2 separate regions of the Homo sapiens genome follow, and region 1 is linked to region 2. The links come from fine-mapping of genetic effects on gene expression. A gene starts in region 2. The other region holds a variant in brackets. All regions are shown on one strand. Distances are from middle to middle.

What was found.
Region 1: its variant is fine-mapped to the expression of NLE1 in whole blood (INTERVAL, PIP above 0.99). The same link has a PIP of 0.9 or more in blood mononuclear cells.

What each region holds. Positions count from the first base shown.
Region 1 is chr17:35,166,122-35,177,249 of GRCh38, reverse strand. It overlaps UNC45B (unc-45 myosin chaperone B), which reads right to left. Exons shown (of 20, transcript NM_001267052.2): 10 at 8,889-9,189; 11 at 7,319-7,413; 12 at 6,995-7,136; 13 at 5,788-5,928; 14 at 2,881-3,008; 15 at 1,216-1,282; 16 at 120-233. Among named protein-coding and RNA genes, the nearest start is that of SLC35G3, 23 kb to the left of the region's middle. The variant T/G (reference allele first, on the strand shown) is at 5,627.
Region 2 is chr17:35,137,387-35,149,239 of GRCh38, reverse strand. NLE1 (notchless homolog 1) reads left to right here and starts at 6,937. Exons shown (of 13, transcript NM_018096.5): 1 at 6,937-6,982; 2 at 7,118-7,261; 3 at 9,174-9,391; 4 at 9,926-10,005; 5 at 11,350-11,426; 6 at 11,600-11,697. The coding sequence starts at 6,965. UNC45B (unc-45 myosin chaperone B) reads right to left here and starts at 1,423. Exons shown (of 20, transcript NM_001267052.2): 1 at 1,330-1,423; 2 at 809-976; 3 at 231-267. The coding sequence starts at 976. RefSeq lists an enhancer at 6,629-7,506.

The DNA.
Region 1 (11,128 bases), 28 kb before region 2:
CCTCCGTGTGACAGCACCATGCCCCTGTCCCAGGCTCGAGGTAGAATGACAAGGGGAAAGGCCTCTAGGAGCAAAGGAGACCCCTCCCATTGCCCTATCCCATCTACCCAAGCACCTACCCGCTCCCCAGGAAAAGCAATGTCCGGATTGGAGACAGCAGCGATCTTTGCTAGAGCGTGGGCTGCCTTCACCTTGCCCACATCTGTGCCCTCCAAAGCCAGGGGAATCAGGGCCTGCAAGAAAGGGCAAGGTCACTACTTAGTCACAGACATCCAGAGGCTTCTCGCCTATCCTCCTGCTCCAGGTGCTGTCTGTCTGTCCCATGGGAGGTCCAGGAAAATTCTGCCGTATAATCAGCCCTTGCACATCATGGAAAACAATTAAATCCTTAATCACATATTCACTCCTCTTGATTCCCAGTGCACATTCAGGTCTTTACCCCACTTCCTCCCACCCACCTAAATATTCCTTCAGCTTTTGGAAAAATAAATAATTCAATCAACAAATTTTTTACTTTCTGCCCAAGCCAAACTCAATCCTTTTGTTTGTTTGTTTTGTTTTGTTTTTTTGAGACAGAGTTTCGCTCTTGCTGCCCAGGCTGGACTGCAATGGCATGATCTCGGCTCATTGCAACCTCCTCCTCCTGGGTTCAAGCAAGTCTCCTGCCTCAGGTTCCTGAGTAGCTGAGATTACAGGTGCACGCCACCAGGCCCAGCTAATTTTTGTATTTTTAATAGAGACGGAGTTGCAGCCAAACCCAATCTTAACATCAGACATCTATTGAGCACCTACCATGAATCAATACTTTCTATATTTTCTCTAATTCTTGTGACAGTCTGCAAATTGAAAGTGTGATTTTCCCCCTATTTTACAGATGAAGAAGCTGTGGCTGGGAGATTAAGTATTTTGCCTGAGGTTATGCAGTCAGAAATGGGAAGAGCAAGAACTCAACTACAAGTCTTCTACATCAAAGTCCAGGGTCTGTCTTTGCACGGTGCTTCCTTCCAACAGCAAGGAGGATAGATGGGATTCCAAAGTACATACCATCATAGCATAAAGTCAAGCAGAAATTGGCTTGGGGCTATGAGCACAGACAGCGCAGATAACTGGTGGCCGTATTCCAGGAGGTCGAGTTGGGGCAGAGGGTACATAATTCTTGCGCTAGGCAAAGAGCATGCACAAAGGCACCTTCTAGGAAGGCACCTGCCCAGTTACCTTGCCACCACCTTGAGCCACAATGGTGCCTCGGTCCTTTGGGTTGTCACACAGTGCCAGGAATACCCTGTGGGACCGAGAAGAAAGGAGAACAGTTAATACACCAGCACACCTTCCCAGGCAGCAGCAGCAGCAGGCCAGCCAGTCGGAGCCAGTGAAACCCTGGGATGAAAAGGGAGACTATGGAAAGTGCCACTTGTGTGCCTGTGCCCCAGAATTAACCACTTTGGGAAGATGACATCATGGGAATAATTGGCTGGGAAGGAAGTGAGGCCAAGTGAGGCTGCAAAGAGCACTCCCCACTATCACTATTTAGGGATGCAACCACCCAGGAGAAGCTTTTCAACTTCAATGGATGTGCCCCAGGTCCTCCGTGATCTGGCTCTGGCTTCCTCTTTTGTCTCATCCAGCACCAGCTCTTCCTATGGATTCCCTGCCCCAGACATATTGCAGGAGAACCCCAAATTCACTCATTCTCTCTCCATCCTCAGTGTCTTTGCAGATGCTATTCTCTCTGCCTGGAACCTTCCCTCTCCTGCATTTAGGTGGCTCCTTTGCTTCCTTCAGAGCTTGAGTTGTCACATCCCCCAGGAGGCCTTACCAGCTGCCCACCCACCTCCCCTCCAGTCTGGCTGGTTGGGGAACACTGCTTGTGCTCCAATCAGCCCTTTATGCTTCCCACATCATGGCATCCATTGCATCGGACTGTAGCTGTGATCTTGCCTGCCTCCCTGGCCAGGCTGCACACAGACTGTGCCTTTAATCTCTGAGAACAAGGTAACAAGAAGGAACAGTGGCCTCCTTTCTCCTGATACAAACTTCCACCTGTGATGACCTGCCCAACATACCACTTCTCTTCCTTCCTTTCCTTCTTTCCCTCTTTCTTTCCTTCTCCTTCCTTCCTTCCTTTCCTTTCCCTTTCTTTCTTTTCTTTTTTCTTTCTTTCTCTTTCTTTCTTTCTTTCTTTCTTTCTTCTTTCCTTTCTTTCTTTCCTTCTTTCCTCTCTCTCCTTCCTTCCCTCCTTTCTTTCTTCCCTCCTTCCTTCCCTCCCTCCTTTCTTCCTCTTTCTTTCTCTTTCTTTTTCTTTCTTTCTTTTTCTTTCTTTCTCCTTCCTCCCTTCTTCTTTTCCCTTCCCTCCTTCCTTTTTTCCTTCCGCCATCCCTTCCTTTCTCTCTCTCTCTCTCTTTCTCTCTTTCTTTATTTCTCTTTTGTATAGAGACAGGATCTTGCTCTGTTACCCAGGCTGGAGTGCAGTAGCACCATCATCATTCACTGCAGCCCTGAATTCCTGGGCTTAAGTGATCCTCCTGCCTCAGCCTCCCAAGTAGCTGGCAGTACAGGTGCACACCACCGTGCCAGGCTAATTTAAAATTTTTTTGTACAGATGGGGTCTCAATATGTTTCCCAAGCTAGTCTTGAATTCCTGGGCTCAAGCAATCCTCCCACCTGGGCCTCCCAAAGCCCTGGGATTACAGGCATGAGCCACCACCCCTGGTCCCATGTCACTTTTCAAAGCTGATCCCCTCAGACCTTTCTCCAGGCTTTCCCAATAGTTTATCTCCTCATTTAGGCCCCCACCATTTCTATCTCCCTGCCCAGTGTGCTGCACTCCAGGACCCTCGGCCCCCAGCCCTAGTTCCAAGCCTTGGCCCACTGCAGCCCCACCTGGCCAGCAGCTCCTTGGTCTGGTCAGTGAGGATGGCACTATCTGCTTTCACCATGCAAGCCAGGGCAGAGATGACACCCGCCTTCAGAAGCCGCTTCACCCGCATGTCTATAAAGTCCTTCTTGTCCTGAGGAGATGAAAAGATGGCAATGTGGGAGGGTCCTGGGTGCCAGGCCAATCGGTATTGGAACCAAAGATGGTGCATTTCTGAATTCTTGGGGTTGGTTGAATAATGGCCTCCAAAGATGTCCATGGCCTGGCCAGGCACAGTGGCTCATGCCTGTAATCCCAGCACTTTGGGAGGCTGAGGCGGGCGGACCACGAGGTTAGGAGATCAAGACCATCCTGGCTAACACGGTAAAACCCTGTCTCTACTGAAAATACAAAAAATGAGCCAGGCGTGGTGGCGGGCACCTGTAGTCCCAGCTGCTCAGGAGGCTGAGGCAGGAGAATGGCATGAACCCGGGGGCAGAGCTTGCAGTGAGCCGAGATCGCACCACTGCACTCCAGCCTGGGCGACACAGCGAGACTCTGTATAAAAAAAAAAAAAAAAATCCATGGCCTAATCTCTGGAACCTGTGAACGTGGGACCTTACATGGCAAAAGGGATTTTGCAGACACGATTAAGTTAAGGATTTTGAGATGAGGGGGTAAGCCTAGATTTCTGTGTGGGCCCAATATAATCACCAGGATCTTTATAAGAGGGAGGCAGGAAGATCAGAGTTAGTACTAGGAGATGTAACAATGGAATGGAAGTGAGGTCAGAGTGGTTCAAGGTCACCAGCCAAAGCATGTAGGTGGCCTCTAGAAGCTGAAAAAGGCAACAAAATGATTCTCCCTTAGAGCCTCCCAAAGAAACCAGCCCTGCTAACACCTTGACTTTAGCCGAGTGAGACTCATTTTAGGACTCTTGACCTCCAGAACTATAAGATTTTTAAAACCGGGCCAGGCGTGGTGGCTCCCGCCTGTAATTCCAGCACTTTGGGAGGCTGAGGTGGGTGGACCACTTGAGCCCAGGAGTTCGAGACCAGCCTGGGCAACATGGCGAAACCCCGTCTCTACTAAAAATACAAAAATTAGCTGGGCATGGTGGAGCGTGTCTATAATCCCAGCTACTCAGGAGGCTGAAGCAGGAGAATTGCTTGAGCCCAAGAGGCGGAGGTTGCAGTGAGCCAAGATTGCACCACTGCACTCCGCCTGGGCGACAGAGGGAGACTCAGTCTCAAAAAAAAAAAAAAAAAAAGTATAAAAATTGCGTTTTAGGCCACAGTGCGTGTGGCAATGTGTTCTAGAAACAATAGGAAACTAAGACACTTCTCCAGATTCCCTCTTCCCAAGCAACTGCCAAGGGGTATACAGCACGCCTTGCTGTCGTGTGTGATTGTCTCTCCTCTCTTCTTCCTTGCCTTACCTAATCCCAAGACAGAGCCTGAGGAGCTGATACCGTAGAAAACCAGTCCCAAAGATTCTCTCATTCACAGAGGAATGAAATAAAAGACGGATAATCCAAAAGACTAAATGATGCGTATATTGTTTTTCTTGGAGAAGGCTGAGGTGGGAGTGGAGGTAGAGAGAGGGTATAGGCAGGAAAGGACACAGTGGATGAAGCCGCCATAACAATGGATTGGGTTTGCTGGAAACCCAAAGTCAACCCAGGGTTAAAGAGTCCCTACAGATAATCCTCAGAGTGAGGAGTGGTGGGGAAGGGGCTGACAACCCTGGGCAAGCCCTGGAAGCCACACTGGAACTTCACAGCCACAGCACATGCTCTGCACCCTTGCCTGGATGAAACATCATGCAGCTTTCAAAAATGATTCAGAGGCCAGGTGTGGTGGCTCATGCCTGGATTCCCAACGCTTTAGGAGGCCGAGGTGGGTGGGTCACTTGAGGTCAGGAGTTTGAGACCAGCCTGACCAATATGGTGAAACCCTGTTTCTACTGAAAACACAAAATTAGCCGGGCATGGTGGTGCATGCCTGGAATTCCAGCTACTTGAGAGACTGAGGCAGGAGAATCACTTGAACCTGGGAGGCAGAGGTTGCATTGAGCCGAGATCTCACCACTGCACTCCAGCCTGGGTGACAGAGCAAGACTCTGTCTCAAAAAATAAATAAATAAAATAAAAATGATTCAGAGAATGAGATGGCAATGTGAAAAACATATTTTTCCAAAATTGGGCACAAAATGATAAATATATTCTAATTATAACTGTGAAAGGAAAAAAGATACATAGAAAAAAAGCCTCTGGTAGGTAACATAACATCAAAATGCCAACAGCAGTCATGTGGAGATGACGTAATCATGAGTGGTTATTTTCTTTTCCCCACATTTTAACTCGTTTTGCAGCATGATTATATTACTTTGATCATTAAAAAAATCTAAATGATTTTATTGGCTGGCAATATCTTGCATATATTCTTAAACAAATCACACACAAATCATATCTTCATGTGCAGGGAATTGTTGGAGAGGGTTCCAGGGGATCTGTGACTTCTGGGCTAATGCTGACCATGCCTCTCCTCTCATGATTCCTACTTAGCACCCATGTCACAAAATCCAGAAATCTGAGAAAATCAAATTGTTATCTGTTGGAGACATGAAATAAAACTGTCTTTTATCCATAAAATCAACAACACAAATTGCAAAGTGTCCATCATGGCTCTGTTTGTTTTCTCAGACTATAAATTGTTGGATTTTTTTCAAAATAGAAAATAAAAACAAAGAAAAAGCATGAGCACCATCTGG[T/G]GGGAAAGTTTACCATTAACATATTCAATGTATGTGTATCTTACCCCCAACCACCCAAACACACACCGTGCCACTCCTGACACCACTCCTTTTGCCGTTCCGCCTCCTTTGGAGGCCTAGTGGCACAGACCAGACCCCTCCCGGGTCGCGCCTGACCCTACCTTGGGGTGTTCCTCGGGCACATGCTGCTTGGAGAACTTGGCGAGCTGGACAAGCTCTGGGATGACCTCCTTGACATCGTAGCTGTTGGTGCAGTTCACCAGGGTGGTGGCCACCGAGTACAGGATGGTCTTGTCACTGGTCTGGAAGGCACAGGGTTGGGGAGAGGGAAAGCAGAAAGGAAACTTTAGGACAAACCTCTGCTTCCAGGATGCTCCCTCACGTGGCCGGCAGGTTGGTGTCGGAGGAGTGCAGCTGGTAGGGCCCATTCTGAGGAAAGACAGCAGCGCAGGAGAGGAACGGTTCTCCCCATAAAGGCAGGCAGCAGTGTCTCCTGCACCCTCCACAGTAGCTCTGACAGTATGAATAGGAGCTGTCCCACAAAGATCCTCGCTTTGCGCCTCTTCCACAAGCCCAGTCTAACACTTTCCCATCCAACTGGAGATGGGGTGGGAGCTGGACATTTTCCGGTCCTGGTGAAAATCTCTCCCATGCTTCCTCCATTTACTGGTAGAAAAGGGCCAGGGAGTTGGCCCAGCAGATGAGGAAAGGAGTCTGGGGGGGCCTGGGAGGGAGGGCAGGTTCCCAGAAAGGCCAGGCACAGCCTCTTTTATTTATTTATTTTCTTGAGGCAAGGTCTCTCTCTGTCACCCAGGCTGGAGTGCAGAGCTGGAATTCTAGCTCACTGCAGCCTCGATCTCCCAAGGCTCAAGCAATCCTCCCACCTCAGCCTCCCGAGTAGCTGGGATTACAGGTATGTGCCACCACGCCCAGCTAATTTTTGTATTTTTTGTAGAGTTGGGGTTTCACCATGTTGCCTAGGCTGGTCCTGAACCCCAGAGCTCAAGCCATCCGCCCGCCTCAGCCTCCTGAAGTGCTGGAATTACAGGCACGTGCTACGATGCCCTGCTTTTTTTTTTTTTTTTTTTTTTTTTAGCTGCCTCAGGTCCTTCAAGACCTCACCTCCTGAGGGCCCCAGGAAAACAAACTGCCCTCCTGTGCATCTTCCCATCTCTGGAAGGCATTGGGAGTCGGGAGTCCATTTTACAATCAGGTAAAATGAGGGCCAGAAAGGGGGAAATAACCAATCATGTTTATACAGGGGTAAGGAGTAGAGCCAGGAGGAAGACTGGGATCCATTCCCTGTGGGTCTGGACCCAGCAGACCTTTCCTGAGGTTTGTGGTCGGGCCAGACTCCCCGACACCTGCCTTGGCCAGCTCAAACATGGCCTGCAGGGCAGGGACGTCCTGGACAAAGTCGTCCTTCACATCAGCGTCCAGCGTGAGGTAGGCCAGGCCCTCCACTGCCCAGCGTCGGGTCCGAGTGTCTATGGACATATTGCACAGCCACCTGGAAGTGAGGAGGGAGCACACATGGGAAGGGGCCCAGGGCTAGGTCAAGAGGGTGAAGCGATTTCAGGGTGGTGAACCAGGGGTGAGGTCCCTTTCACACTCCACTAGAGCACACCCCAGAGACTCTTGCCCGGAAGGCGCATGAGGAGATGGAGGGCCTGGGAAACACAGCCCCCTTACTTGCGACACTGTTTGGCCAGTTTTTCTGTCGACCCTTCCGCAAACTGCCTGAGACCGTAGTCTGTGCCACCTGCAGAGCCGAGCTTACAGAGTCCCTGAGGAGGAGAGGAGACAGCAGACACATGCAGGATCAGAGACACCAAGGCTTGGGGATGAAGCCTTGCTCAAACAGGTTTCTATGGCCAGAACACTTCGCCCCTCTTTCTTTGCTTGGATCCACCTCTGTGCAGACTGTAAAACTCAGCTCAGGTGTCACCTCTGCTGAGATACTTTCCCTGATGCTCTGGGTTAGGGTAGAGGCCCATAAAGTTGCAAATTCTTGACCTGCCCCCTTCCCCCACCATTTTGACCCCACAGATGTATTGTGCCTGCCATTTTGAAAAACCAGCAAGACCAAGTTAACCATATCTGAAGCTTCAATGGGGAACCTTGTTACGGCACAGAAACTGACAGAGAAATCCTATCTTCTGGATAACAGATTCAGATGTGCAAAATTTTACCCAGAGAAAATTGGACTTTTCTTAGGGGGGCGGTTTCATAAGAGAAAATTCACTTTTGTCAGAAGCTAGAATTTGTTTTTAAAAAATTGATGCTGGGTGCGGTGGCTCACGCCTGTAATCCTCCCAGCACTTTGGAAGGCCGAGGCGGGTGGATCAGTTAGGCCAGGAGTTTGAGACCAGCCTGGCCAACGTGGTAAAACCCCATCTCTACTAAAAATACAAAAATTAGCAGGGTGTGGTGGCAGGCATCTGTAATCCCAGCTACTTGGGAGGCTGAGGCAGGAGAATCGTTTGAACCCAGGAGGCGGTGGTTGCAGTAAGCCGAGATCATGGGGGTTGCAGTGAGCCAATATCATGCCACTGGACTCCAGCCTGGGCTACAGAGGGAGACTCTGTCTGAAAAAATAATAATAATAATAATTTCAGGCCAGGCACAGTGGCTCACGCCTGTAATCCCAGCACTTTGGGAGGCCCAGGGGGGTGGATCACCTGAGGTCAGGAGTTCAGGACCAGCCTGGCCAACATGGCGAAACCCCGTCTCTATTAAAAATACAAAAATTAGCTGAGTGTGGTGGCACACGTCTGTAATTCCAGCTACTCTGGGGGCTGAGGCACAAGAGTCACCTGAACCTGGGAGGCGGAGGTTGCAGTGAGCTGAGATTTCGCTGCTACACTCCAGCCTAGGTGACAGAGTGAGACTCCATCTCAAAAAAACAAAAAGTAAAATGAAAGTGGAAAAAAAATACCTTATAGAAACTGATTAAGGAAAGTGACTCTTCAGAATTTGCTCTGAAAATGCATTCTGGACACAAGCTCCTCAGTGTTCATGTTGTTCATAAGCAGGGAGACGAACGTCCTCAGGGTTAAGCAGCAGAGTTCACGGTTCTGAATCTACATCCTCACAAGCCCCCTGGATATTGCCCTGTTCTGCAGGGGTCTGTGGCTGGGTCTGGTGCCCCCTTGAACCTGGTCTCCTCAAGGACAGCAGCCTCAACTCATTCATTTTGGTGTCCCTGGTGCCTGGCATGGCACCTTGTACTGAGTAGGAGGGTGGTACCGAGCCCACTCACCACCAGTGTGCGGATCTTGATCTTCTCATTTTTGGTGGTCTTGTAGATCTGTTTGAGCAGTGACACTCCATTGGTGATGATGAAGGTGGCGCGGCTGAGCTTCGTGGAGGCATGGATGAGGGCCTCCACGGCCACCAGCTGGTCCGTCTCGCGCTCTGAGCCACATAGTGCCACCATCATCTCCATCACACCTTTCAGTCCCAGCAGCTGGTTGCCCAGGTCAAAGGGGCCCTGCAGGATCCCTGACACTGTCTGGATGGCATTCAAGTTCTTGTCCATGTCCTGGGGGTCAAACTTGCCCCTAAAACAAAGGACAAGGGTGGTCAAGAGAACTGGTCCAAGAGAGTGGAAAGAGTGTGAGATTTGGAGGCAGTAGGATTTGGATTTGCATCCTGGCTCCACCACTCATGTGCTGTGTGATATTGGGCAATTCAGCGAACCTCTCTGAGCCTCAGCTCCTGTAAACTGAGGATAGTACTACTAGTTCTCAGAGTTGTGGTGAGGATAAATGACATAACAGCTGTGTCACAGAGTGTGCCTCTGGGAAATACACTCTGACTCAGGGATTGACATGCAGGAAGTTTATTAGAGAGAGCTCTTGGGAAGAGAAGGAAGCAGGACTGGGGCAGAGGGAGGCATTTTGCAGCTATCACAAAGCCTCAGCCTCCAAGAAGTTCTGGAGCTGGAAGACCCTTCACAGTTGTTCCAAGTTAGAGTGAGTCTTTTTCTTTCTTTTTTTTTTTTTTGAGACTGAGTCTTGCTCTGTTGCTGGAGTGCACTGGTGCCATCATAGCTCACTGTGACCTCAAACCCCTAAGCTCAAGCAATCCTCCCACCTCAGCCTCCTGAGCAGTTGAGACTACAGGTGCACACAATCATGCTCAGACAATTGTTTAAATTTTTTTGTAGAGATGGGATCTTGCTATGTTGCCCAAGCTGATCTCAAACTCCTGGCCTCAGATGATCTTTCCACCTGGCCTCCCAAAGCACTGGTATTATAGGTCTGAGTCACCTCAACTAGCCTGGTGTGAGTGTTTGCATACTGGCTTCCCTGGGAAGGGTGAAACAGCTCTCCCCAGGTGAGACAAGTCCCAAAGAGAGATAACAGCTGAGAGCTGTCAGCTGACAGCCTTTCCAGCAGCTGCTGTGTCTGGGAGGACAGTACAGCATTGACAACAACACAAAAAGGCCTAGCGTGATGCCCGGCACACTGTGTCTCTCTGTGACATGGCCTGGGCCAGTCACTCCCCTCTGGTGATCTGGTCTTAGTCCCTTCCCCTGTTGGTGAGCATGTGGGCTAGATATCCAGGAACGTTCTGCCTTGCTTTCAGAATCTATTATCATCTACTCTAGGGGAGAATCTCTGCGTGGGAATGTCAGAGGTGACATGCCTTCTGATGCTTCTCATCTGCCCAGGTTGGTGCATTGTGGGAAACAGGGCAGATGTGCACAGTGGAAATGCAGCTGTGTATAAATGCAAGAAGGCAGCGTGGACTGGTCAGGAGAACTCCACACCAAGAGTCCAAGACCTGGGCTCTGGTCCCATGTCTGCCTCTGATTGCTGGAGGATCTCAGGCAAGTTCCCCTGGGGAAGAGGACTCAGCTTTGGAAGCTCTGACAGCCCCTCCAGCTTGAGCATCCCATGTCCTGTGCCTCATCTCTCCACTCAGTGCCCAGGGAACCAGCATCCTTCGTAATTAGTTGCGGTCTGACCTTTGAGCTGGCACTGGGTCCCCACACAGCCCCCGCCCCTGATGAAGCGGGATGTATTCCACTCTTGCTAGGGGCAGGCTGGGGCACCATTTGATGAAGGCAGTGACCCCTCCTCTCAGCATTCCACAGGCTGACAGGAGGGAGCCTCAATCAACAAGCCCAAACAAGAACTAGCTGGATGACAGGTAATGGGAGTCAGTTGGGGACCTCATGAGGGACTCAAGAAGTCAGCAGGAAAAGTTGAAACTGAGGTAGAGAAAGACAGAAGCCTTGAAAAGACCTAAGTGAACCAAAGTCAGGGTGAGCAGAAGCCGTGGGGTAGAGAAGGAGTTGGCAAATCCAGGGAGTTGAGAATAGCTTTCACATTATTTTATTTTATTTGAGACGGGGTCTCACGCTCTTGCCCAGGCTGGAGTGCAGTAGTGCATTCAAGGCTCATTGCAGCCTTGACCTCCTGGGCTCAAGTGATCCTCCTACCTCAGCTTCCCAAGTAGCTGAGACTACAGGGGTGTGCCACCACACTTGAC
Region 2 (11,853 bases):
GAAGGCAGCTCTCTGACCCACCTGGGAGTTGCCTTTTCTGGGCTAAATATTGCAGCTTCCCTCAACTGCTCTTCACAGGATATGTTTCCAGTCCCTTCTCCAGCTTGTTCTCTCCCTTCTGAAGTCACTCCATACTCACTGTTTCTTCCCCCAAAATGGTAACTAGATTAAAACCCAGGCCATGCAGAGGAGAATGTGACAGGGCAAGCTTGGAGGTGGGAGGGGCTCACCTCTGGAGGCATCTGAAGCTGCCTGGACGTAGCTCTCCTGAGGAAAGGGGAAGGAGAAGGAGACTCGGTTAATGTGGGCCCAATGCAGAGATGGCCAGAGAGTGTCCCCACAGTGTGGGGAGAGGGTTTCCTGGGGGAGCTGCAGGCTGTCAGAGGCCCAGGGCATGCTCCTCACAGGCATGGCAAAGAGGACAGGCTTTGACATCAGGCAAACCCAGGTTTGAATCTCGGCTCTGCTACTACTTGGGAGAGCTTGGGCAAGTTAATGAATGAAGCCCTCTGGATCCCGAGTTTCTTACCTGCGATAGGGGGAGGACAACAACAGCTATCTCACGGGCCATTAGTAAGATGCCATGAATAACACATGAAAGCACCTGGCATTGGGCTGATTCTGCTCTGGATGAATTTCTGTCTTTCCGGGGCATGGGTCAGGGGGTTGGAGGCACCCTTCTCCAACCCCAGGCATCCAGGAGAGTCGGCTGGGATGAAGGGCAATTTCTATCAGGGTGAAGGGGCTGCCACTCAGCCCCAAAGCCCCTCTGCCTCACTCCCACCCTGTGCCCTGCCCTGCCCCAGACCGTTTTCAGGCCACAGGCTGCCCGGTTCCGATAAAGCGTGGCCAGCAGGGCCTTGTCCTTGGTCAGCTTCAGGGCCTGGCTGTAGCTATTTGTGGCGGCCTTGTAGTCCTGGAGCTGGAAATGCCGGTTTCCTTCCTCCTTCAGCTGTACCGCTTCCACCTCTGCCATCTGCTGGGACAGGAGAAGCTCTGTCTGGTCAGCCCCTCACTGCAGACCCAGGGCTGGGCTCCTGGCCTGAGGTCCGGAGCTCCAGGGTCCCCTCACACCAGAGAGGATGGTGGGGATTCTGCCTGGAAGGGACCCACCCCCAGAACCCCCAAATCTATTGCCCCATGAGGACATTATAGCATTTGCTCAGAGCTTGGCCCAAGTTGAGAGTCCCTGTGCCTCACTCTCTGTCCCTCCCAGCCTGAGCAGGCGAAGCTGCTTAGTTTGTGCCAAAGGCCTGAACTCTCATTGCAGGTCTTAGAAGTTTGCCGTCTCCCTCCCCAGTCCAGGGCACACCCCAGGCCCATGCTCACTTTTTCAGCAAGGACGATGCTTTCGATCTGCCCTCTTGTGATGCTGCTCCCCTGAGCACTCCTGTGTCAACCTCCAGCCAGCCAGCCTCAGTCTGCCCCTCCCAGCCCCCACCCAAGAGATTTTCTTGCCTCAGCCAGTGGCTCTGGACCATATTTGGCCACAGGGGCAGGTGCCCCTGGAGTCTGTCACTGATACTCAGGGCCCTCCCCCTCCCCAGACTGGTCAGTCATGACCACGTGGAGGTGCTGACCAGCCTCCGCCCAAGCACCCCACTCTGGGTTATCCTGGTGGGGGGCTTAGGCACTAACATTCCAAAGAGTGACAGAAAGATCCAGAAGGGACAGGAACCCCCCAGCAGACTCCCTCCCTGGGCACAGCTCTAATGCACCTCTCCACATCTATCCCAGATAAACAGCTTCCTCTCCCTCCCCTCAACCATTGCTATTTTTGGGAGCAGAGTGACAGCTGAGGGGCTGACAGACTGGGACACACAGCAGTTGCCCAGATCCCAGACCAACTGGAGAGTTCCAGAAATACCTTTCTGGAGGGAGCGGGGAAGGAACAGGGGAAGAAAGTTCCTTCCCTTTTCCACTTCTGCGCAACACCTCAACCCACCCTGCTTTCACCTGTTCAAAATGTCTTTGCTTTTCAGAAAGACCAACAGGACTTGCTAACTCAGTTTAGTGTGAGTGAGTGGTTCGTTAGTTTCGGTCCACATGCGGTCTCCTGTTCCTCCCCCTGTGTATAGAGTGGATCTATTCAGCCTACCTCTCCCATCTGACTGTTAGCTCCCAGAGAGTGGGCTTTGTGTATCCCCCATCAGGCTGAGATCTCTTAGGGCAAGGGCTGGGTCAGACTGGGAATTCCCCCGAGACCAAGGGTCCTCCCCACCCGACTGGAAACTATCCTGGGACACACTGAGGCTCCCTCCTCAGAAGGGGGTCTTCCTGGGACAAGAACTATGTATTCACCATTGCAGAGGGGTCTCTCCTGAGGCAGGAATGTTTCTCCTTAGCTAACTGGGAGTTCCTGAAGCAAATTTATGACGTTGTCCCCAGTTGGACCCAGAACTCTTCTGCATTTCAGTGCCCTCAAGCCTGGGCTGTGAGCTTCCTCCTGGAAGGCAAAGACAGCATCCCATATAGCTTGTCCCCCAACCCCCTTCCTGCACAGGTTCTGGCACATTCAGTGTCCGAAGTGTGTTTCCTGAATGGAATGAATGGATGGATGAATGAATGAATGAATGAATGGTGTCTTCATGATGATGATTTCCTCCACTCACCTCTCATCCCTCTCCCCTCCACCCCACACATATCTTCAAACTTATCTGGCCAGAGCTGAGAAAGACACTGAAGAAAATCCCAGGTGGAATCATTCATACTAGATTCTACTCGCAGACCTGTGACCTTGGACACACAGCTATATGACCTTGGACAAGTTGTAGCGCCCTGCTGGACACAAAGCCCAGCCCTAACACATGTTTGTTGAATGAGCAAATAAATGAATGAATAGATGGATGAATTCCCTGCCTTCATGTTATCACAAGCCCTGGGCCCTTTTGTGGGGCAAGCTCTCTGCAGCAATGAGGTAATAGGATAAAGGATCCTGACATTGGCAGAGACCTGCGGTTCTGTGACTTTAGGTCCAAGGGATCTTATATTCAAATGCTGATTCAGTAATTCATTCCACAAGCATTTCTTAAACATCTTTTTGTTGTTGTTGTTGTTGTTGTTTGAGACAGAGTCTTGCTCTGTTGCCCAGGCTGGAGTGCAGTGGCACGATCTCGGCTCACTGCAACCTCCACCTTCTGGGTTCAAGAGATTCTCCTGCCTCAGCCTCATGAGTAGCTGGGATTACAGACATCCACCACCATGCCTGGCTAATTTCTGTATTTTTAGTAGAGATGGAGTTTCACCATGTTGGCCAGGCTGATCTTGAACCCCTGACCTCGTGATCCACCTGCCTAGGCCTCTCAAAGTGCTGGGATTACAGGCGTGAGCCACCGCGCCTGGCCCACATTTCTTAAACATTTATTATGTGTGAGGAACTGTGAAGCATAGAACACTGGTGAGGACAAGGATTTGTGTCTATGTTGTTCCCTCACATATTCCAAGCGTTTGTAATGGTGTGGGGCACAGTGGCTGACACCTGTAATCCCAGCACTTTGGGAGGCCAAGGCAGGCGGATCACCTGAGGTCAGGAGTTCCAGACCAGCCTGGCCAACATGGCGAAACTCCATCTCTGCTAAAAACACAAAAGTTAGCCGGGCATGGTGGCGGGTGCCTGTAATCCCAGCTACTAAGGAGTCTGAGGCAGGAGAATCACTTGAACCCCAGAGGCAGAGGTTGCAGTGAGCCAAGATCATGCCACTGCACTCCAGCTTTGGTGACAGAGCAAGATTCCATCTCAAAAAAGAAGAAAAAATAAAAAGAAGGTGCTCAATGCTATTTGTTGAATGAATGAATGAATGAAATAATTCCATGGATCTGTGATTCTGTGATTTCTTTTTTTTGTTCGTTTGTTTGTTTTGGTTTTTTTTTTAATTGAGACAGGGTCTCGCTGTCACAAGTGGAAAGCAGTGGCATGATCACGGCTGACTGCAGCCTTGACCTCCCAGGTTCAAGCAATTCACCCATCTCAGCCTCCTGAGTAGCTGGGACTATAGGTGCATGCCACCTGGCTATTTTTTTTGTAGAGACATGATCTCACCATGTTGCCCAGTCTGGTCTCAAACTCCTGGGCTCAAGTGATACTCCCACCTCGGCCTCCCAAAGTGCTGAGATTACAGGTGTGAGCCACTGTGCCAGCTGGATCTGTGATTTCTAAATGTGAGGAATACCAGGATGTTTTGAAAACATACAACAGGGAAATATGACATCATATGACATCATTTCAAAGGTTTCCCTGCGTAAGTGATAAATGAGTTGATACACATAGAACTCCGACAACGTCTGGCAGAGAGTAGGCACTCAATACATTTATTGGATGAATGAATAAATATTCAAGGCAAGACCTGAAGAATGAGGAACTATTCCTGTATTAGTTGGCTCTGGCTACCATAACAAAATAGCACAGACAGGGAGGCTTCAACAACAGAAATTTATTTTCTCACAGCTCTGGAGTAGAGAAATCCAAGGTCAAGGTGCCATGAGGGTTGGTTTCTGGTGAGGCCTCTCTTCCTGGATGCAAACAGCCACCTTCTCACTGTGTCCTACTATGGCCTCATCTTTGTGTGTGCTCAGGGAGGCAGTGCGGGGGGCGGGGAGAGACAGAGAGAGAGTACTCTGGAGTCTCCTCATTTCACAAGGGCACCAGTTCTATCTGATTAGTGTCCTACCCATACAAACTCACTTATTAACCCTTCCTATGTCCTTTCAGGGCCCATCTCCAGGCCAGGCATGGTGGCTTACACCTGTAATCCCAGCACTTTGGAAGGCCTAAGACAGGAAGATCATTTGAGGCCAAGAGTTCGAGACCAGCTTAGGCAACAGAGTGACAGCCTTGTCTCTACAAAAATTTTTAAAAGTTAGCCGAGTGTCAGGTATAGTGGCACACACCTGTTGTCCTAGCTACTCAGAACACTAAGGTAAGAAGAGCACTTGAGCCTGGGAGTTTGAAGCTGTGTGAGCTATGATCACACTACTACACTCTAGTCTGGGCAACAGAGTGAGACCCTGTCTCTAAAAAAAAAAAAAAAAAACAATAATAATAATATATGCTATCTCCAAATACAGCCACATTCAGAGCTAGGGCTTCAATATATAAATTAGGGCAGAGGCGTCCAATCTTTTGGCTTCTCTGGGCCACAGTGGAAAAAGAATTGCCTTGGGCTACACATAAAATACACTAATGATAGCTGATGAGCTGAAAAAAAAAATCGAAAGAAAATCTCATAATGTTTTAAGAAAGCTTACGAATTTGTGTTGGGCTGCATTCAAAGCCATCCTGGGCTGCATGCAGCCTGTGGCCCAGGGGTTGGACAAGCTTGAATTAGGGGAAGGGCACAATTCACTCCATAACAGTTCCAGACAGAAAAAACTGCATGGGCAAAATCACTGATGCAGGAAGAGCCATGCCTTGTAAGAACTCAGAAAAAGCCAGCAAGATTTAACCTAAAGAGAGGGGTGGCTGGACATAGCAAGGCTGAATTGACCATTATAAGGAGTGTTCTTTTTTTCCTGCATGTAAGGGAGCCGTCGCAGGGTTTGAGGGTGAAGAGCAGCAGGCCAGATTTTTGGTCTGAAAAGATAACCCTGGCTGCATCGTGGAGAATGGGTAGAAAGAGGCAGGAATGGAAATGGGGGGGCTCATCGGGAGGCTGTTGTAGCGGTCCAGGCAGGTGATGATGGTGACTCTGACCAGAGTGAGGCAGTGGAGATGGGGAGAGCAGATTCAAGCTGTGTTCATGAGGATGACTTGGCAGAGCTTGAGACTGCCTGAGCAGTGGAGGGAGAGAGAGGAGAGTTGGCAAGGGAGATCCTTCGTTTCAGGCAAAAGAGCTCAAGTTCATTGCTGTCTGCTTCAGTTCCTCAGTAATATGGGGAGAAAAGGGTTGTAAGAATTAAATGAGTTATGTGGGAAAGCACTTAGAACAATTCCTGACTTGTTGATGTCATTATCACTATTATTGCTTTACAGCATTGATGATTGTAGAAATGATTTGCTTTTGTACTCGAGTATTATTGAGTTGATCCATTTTATTTATTTATTTATTTATTTATTTATTTATTTATTTATTTATTTATTGAGACAGAGTCTTGCTCTGTCATCCAGGCTGGAGTGCAGTGGTGAGAGCTCGGCTCACTGCAACCTCTGCCTCCCAGGTTCAAGAGAATCTACCACCTCAGCCTCTCCAGTAGCTATGACCACAGGCGCATGCCACCACGGCTGGTTAATTTTTTTGTATTTTTAGTAGAGACCTGGTTTCACCATGTTGGCCAGGCTGGTCTCGAACTCCTGGACTCAAGTGATCTGCTCGCCTGGGCCTTCCAAAGCGCTGGGATTACAGGTGTCAGCCACCACGCCCAGCCTTGACTTGATCCATTTTTAAAAGGATACTAATTTCTAGGCTAGGCGTGGTGGCTCACACCTGTAATCCCAGCACTTTGGGACACTGAGGCTGGGGAGTGGGGGACTTGCTGCTTGAGTTCAGGAGTTTGAGACCAGCCTGGGCAACATAGTGAGACCTCGTCTCTACAAAAAATGAGAAAAAAATAACCGGGCAGGGTGTCATGTGCCTGTAGTCCAGGCTACTCTGAGGCTGAGGTGGGAGGATCGCTGTGCCAGAAAGTTCGAGACTGCAGTGAGCCGTGGTGGCACCACTGCCCTCCAGTCTGGGCGACGGAGTGAAACTCTGTCTCAAAATGAAATTAAATTAAAATGGGGCAAGAATCCCTGTTGTGAAGAGTCAAAAGTTTACTGTGTCCTCTAAGACCCTGGCGAAAAATAAATGTGAAGGCTGTTGAGGGGCGGGAGGAGCACCAGGTAAGCCCATTTCTAATCCCTGAGGCCGTGCGCAGCGGGACGCTTCTCCTCCCCAACAGCAGAGGGCGATGTGGCCGGCGGCGACCCCGCCCGACCACGGAGACGGCGCTCTGTCTGCCGGGCTCTTTCTCCTCCACGTGGGGACGCAGGATGGCGGCAGCAGTGCCGGTGGGTGTGCGTGGATGGGGGCGGGGGGCGTCGCCGCGGGGCGCTAGGGCCCGGGTCCCTGAGGCCTGAGAGAGGCGAAGTGGGGCCCTTCTGGGCGGGCGACCAGACTGACTCCCGCCCCACTTGCTCGCGCAGGACGAGGCGGTGGCGCGCGATGTGCAGCGGTTGCTAGTGCAGTTCCAGGATGAGGGCGGGCAGCTGCTGGGTTCCCCGTTCGACGTGCCCGTGGACATCACCCCGGACAGGCTGCAGCTCGTGTGCAACGCGCTACTGGCCCAGGTAAGTGGCTGGCCAGGGCGGCCTCGCATCTCCACCCCCGGGCGGATGCGGTGGGGGAATCATATTACCGAGGGTCTGCGGTTCATGGTCCCCCGCTAACGGACTGTGGTGACCCACCTGGCGTGAGCTCCCACCTATGTCAGAGATGGAATCAGTGGCATAGCGCTTTACACGCCAACCAAAGGGGTCCACCTGCGGAGAGGGGCCTAGCTTTGAACGCACCGGATGCTGTATTTCATTGATTCTTTGTCACAGTCCCCCAGTCTGGGACACGTTAATATCCCCATTTTACAGCGTGGCCCGGAGGGACTCAGTATTTTGCACGATGCTATGTAGTAGGTAGCAGATTTGGAATTGGAACCCAAAACTATCCGAATACCCATGCTTTTATTTATTTATTTATTTACCTTTTTTTTTTTTTTTTTTGAGACGGAGTCTCACTTTGTCGCCAGGCTGGCAAGCTGGAGTGTAGTGGCGTGATCTCTGCTCACTGCAATCTCTGCCTCCCAGGTTCAAGCGATTCTCCTGCCTCAGCCTCCCGAGTAGCTGGGACTACAGGCGCGCGCCACCACACCCAGCTAATTTTTGTATTTTTAGTGGGGACTGGGTTTCACCACGTTGGCCAGGATGGTCTCGATCTCTTGACCTCGTGATCCTCCCGCCTTGGCCTCCAAAGTGCTGGGGATTACTGGCGTGAGCCACCGCACCCGGCCTTTGCTTTTAACCTTTAAGCCAGTGTGTTTACTGAAGAGCTGCCCTGGGGACAGGGGAGGTCCTTAAAATTGCAGTTCCTGGACCCCATCCCAGCCTTACTAAACCAAACTCTGGGATGAAGCAGAAAGTCTACATTTTTTAACAGGCGTTTTGGGAGCTTTTTACACAAATATAGTGTAGTGTGGTAGTTTGGGAAACACTGCATAATGCTATATGCTAATCCTATCTTGGACGTAAAGAACCTGAATTAATCATTGGCAATAGGACATTGAACTAATTACTTAGTTGTTCTGAGCCTCTGCTTTTGAAAACTGTCAGTGGGAATATTAGTATCTACTTCCCACGGTTGTTATGAGATGCAGATAAAGAATTTCAGGCCGGGTGCAGTGGCTTATGCCTGTAATCCCAGTACTTTGGGAGGCTGAGGTGGGCAGATCACTAGAGGTCAGGAGTTCGAGACCAGCTTAGCCAATATGGCGAAAACAGTCTCTACTGAAAATACAAAAATTAGCCAGGCGTGGTGGCAGGCGCCTGTAGTCCCAGCTCCTCGGGAGGCTGAAGCAGGAGAATTGCTTGAACCCAGGAGGCAGAGGTTGCAGTGAGCTGAGATCTCACCACTGCACTCCAGCCTGAGTAACAGAACGAGACTCCATCTCAAAAAAAAAAGAAAAAAGAATTTCCAAGTGCTGTGTAAGTGTCCTGCAACTGCTGTTCAGTGACTTAAAAGGTCTTGCTAGGCTGGGCACAGTGGCTCACGCCTGTAATCCCAGCACTTTGGGAGGCCGAGGCAGGTGGATCACCTGAGGTCAGGAGCTTGAGACCAGCCTGGCCAATGTGGCGAAACCCCGTATCTACTAAAAATATAAAACTTAGCCAGGCGTGGTGATGGGTGCCTGTAATCCCAGCTACTCGGGAGGCTGAGGCAGGAGAATCTCTTGAACCCAGGACGCGGAGGTTGCAGTGAGCAGAGATTGCTCCACTGCACTCCAGCCTGGGTGACAGAGCGAGACTCTTGTCTCAAAAATAAATAAATAAATAAATAAAAGGTCTTGCTCAATGGGCAATGATGGGGGTATCCCTAGCACGATGGCTGAAAAGAAGAAGCTTCACCTCCCACAGCTCAGTGGGGAGCATCCCTGGCAGAGGGTGCCCCTGCACATCCATTGTTGCGGGTTTGTCCTTTACCATTGTCCTTCAGGAGGATCCCCTGCCACTGGCTTTCTTTGTCCACGATGCTGAGATCGTCTCCTCACTGGGGAAGACGTTGGAGTCCCAGGCAGTGGAGACAGAGAAGGTCCTAGACATCATCTACCAGCCACAGGCTATCTTCAGAGTCCGGGCTGTGACTCGCTGCACCAGCTCCTTGGAGGGTCACAGTGAGGCAGTCATTTCTGTGGCCTTCAGCCCTACGGGAAAGTAAGGACAGCTGCAGACTCATGGAGGGGGTATGTGGGGGTGCAGTCTTTGCCTGGTTTGGGGAGGGTCTCCCAGAGTTATAATTGATGGGGCCTCAGGGCTGCCTACCATAGACCCAAGCTCTGGACTCAGCTTGCAATTAAGGGACTTCCTCAGTAGGGCATGGTCCCCAAAGGCTGCTTAAGGACCCCTGCCTTGGACAAACCTCTCCTAGACTTGATTTTTCAAGATCTGAGCTGTGTGACTTGTATAAATCACTTAACCTTTCCGAGTTAATTTTTCATCTGTGAAACTGGGATTAGTTGCTTCTCTCAAACTTAGAAAGGTAATGAGAAGCTTCAAAAGCTGGTTATAGCTGTGGAGAGGAAAGAAATGGCCTCCTGATGTATTCTCCCAGAGGACAGCATCAGTATTGTCTTTCTCCCTTCCAGGGGCGAGGAAAGAGTCCAGTTCCATATTCTATTCACAGAAAGTGATTGAATAGGTGGCACAAATGCACATGTGCAGTGTCAAGCATCCTCTCTTCTTCCCCAGGTACCTGGCCAGTGGCTCTGGAGACACCACCGTGCGCTTCTGGGATCTCAGCACAGAGACACCACATTTCACATGCAAGGGTCAGTATGCAATTAGCCATTTAGGGGGTCTTCTTTTTTTTTGAGACAAGGTCTTGCTCTGTTGACCAGGATGGAGTACAGTGGTGCAGTCACAGCTCACTTGAACTCCTGGGCTCAAGCCTTGAACTCCTGGGTTCAAGCAGTCCCCCTACTTCAGCCTCCAGAGTAGCTGGGATGACAGGCACTTGCCATCACACCTGGCTCGTTTTTTGTTTTCATACAGATGAGGGTCTCACTTTGCAGATTACAACCCCTTAATATCCAGTTGGCGGCTGTCTGTTCCTAGGTAGAGACCATGTCCTTGAGCCCAGCCAGCCACTTAGACACAAGCAGAAACTGCACCAAGGAGTCAATATGGGACATGGTGAGAGGCTGACTGACTGCTACCAAGGAGAACCTGGTTTAAATCCTGCCTCTGCCACAGTGGTTTTCAAACTTGAGCACAAATCAGAATTGCCCCGCCTCAGGGGCTTGTTAAAATGCAGATTGCTGGCCAGGCGTGGTGGCCCACACCTGTAATCCCAGCACTTCGGGAGGCCAAGGCAGGCAGATCACTTGAGGTCAGGAGTTTGAGACCAGCCTCGCCAACACAGTGAAACCCCATCTCTACTAAAACTACAAAAATTAGCCGGGCATGGTGGCGTGTGCTTGTAATCCCAGCCACTGGGGAGGCTGAGGCAGAAGAATTGCTCGAATCTAGGAGGCGGAGGTTGCAGTGAGCCGAGATGGCACCACTGCACTCCAGCCTGGGTGATGGAGTGTGACTCCATGAAAGAAAGAGAGAGAGAGAAAAGAGAAGAGAGAAAAAAATACAGATTGCTGGGCCCCACCCCCAGAGGTTTAGTTCTATTGGGCCTGGGGTAGGGCCTGGGAATCTGCATTTCTAACAAGTTCCCAGGAGATGCTGATGCTGCTGCTCTGACGACCACACTTGAAGAACCACTGCTATACCACAGATTAGTTAAGTGACCTTGTGTGTGTAGGGCATGTTCCCTTTCTAAGCTTCAATTTTCTCATCTGGAAAATGGGGATGATAATTCTTGCTTTGCTCCATAGCTTAGAGCTCTTGTGAGAAATAACAAGGGATGACATGTACAAAAACACTTCATAGCATGTGTCACATAAGGAGTCATTAGAGAGTGATGGTGTTATCCATGCAGCAAGATGCAGAGCTCTAACACTTGGGGTGCATTCTATCCATCCCCAGAAAGCCTCATCGCTCCTTTTGTTCAATCATTCATTTATTCAAATGGTTAAGGAGTACCTGGCACCTGACAGGCACTGCTGGGCACTTGGGATAAAGACAGATGTAGTCCCTTATTTCTCCCTCCTCTGCTTTCTTAGGACACAGACACTGGGTCCTTAGTATATCCTGGTCTCCAGATGGCAGGAAGCTGGCCTCAGGCTGCAAGAATGGCCAGGTAGGTAGTTCTCAGGGTAACTAGGCAGAGACTCAAGGGGGCCTTCCTAGGAGACAGTTCAGAATCAGGTTCAGGAGTCTTTGGGGAGGGTTGGGTGGGAAGTGGTAGGCAGGGATTTTGGTGGAGCCAGAGACCTGTTGGGGAGGATTATTCAGTGAGCTTCTGTCCTTCAGATTCTCCTCTGGGACCCAAGCACAGGGAAGCAGGTGGGCAGGACCCTCGCTGGCCACAGCAAGTGGATCACAGGCCTGAGCTGGGAGCCCCTCCATGCGTAAGTGACACTGACGGAGCTGGGACAAATGAGCCAGGGGATCAAAGCCATCCCCTTTCCCTGCCCAATGCATAGAAGTTTTACGTGAGGGGACAAGATGGGCAGCCTGAATGACCGTGATGGCTTGGCAGGCATGGGAGAAGGGTCTCGGGCAGA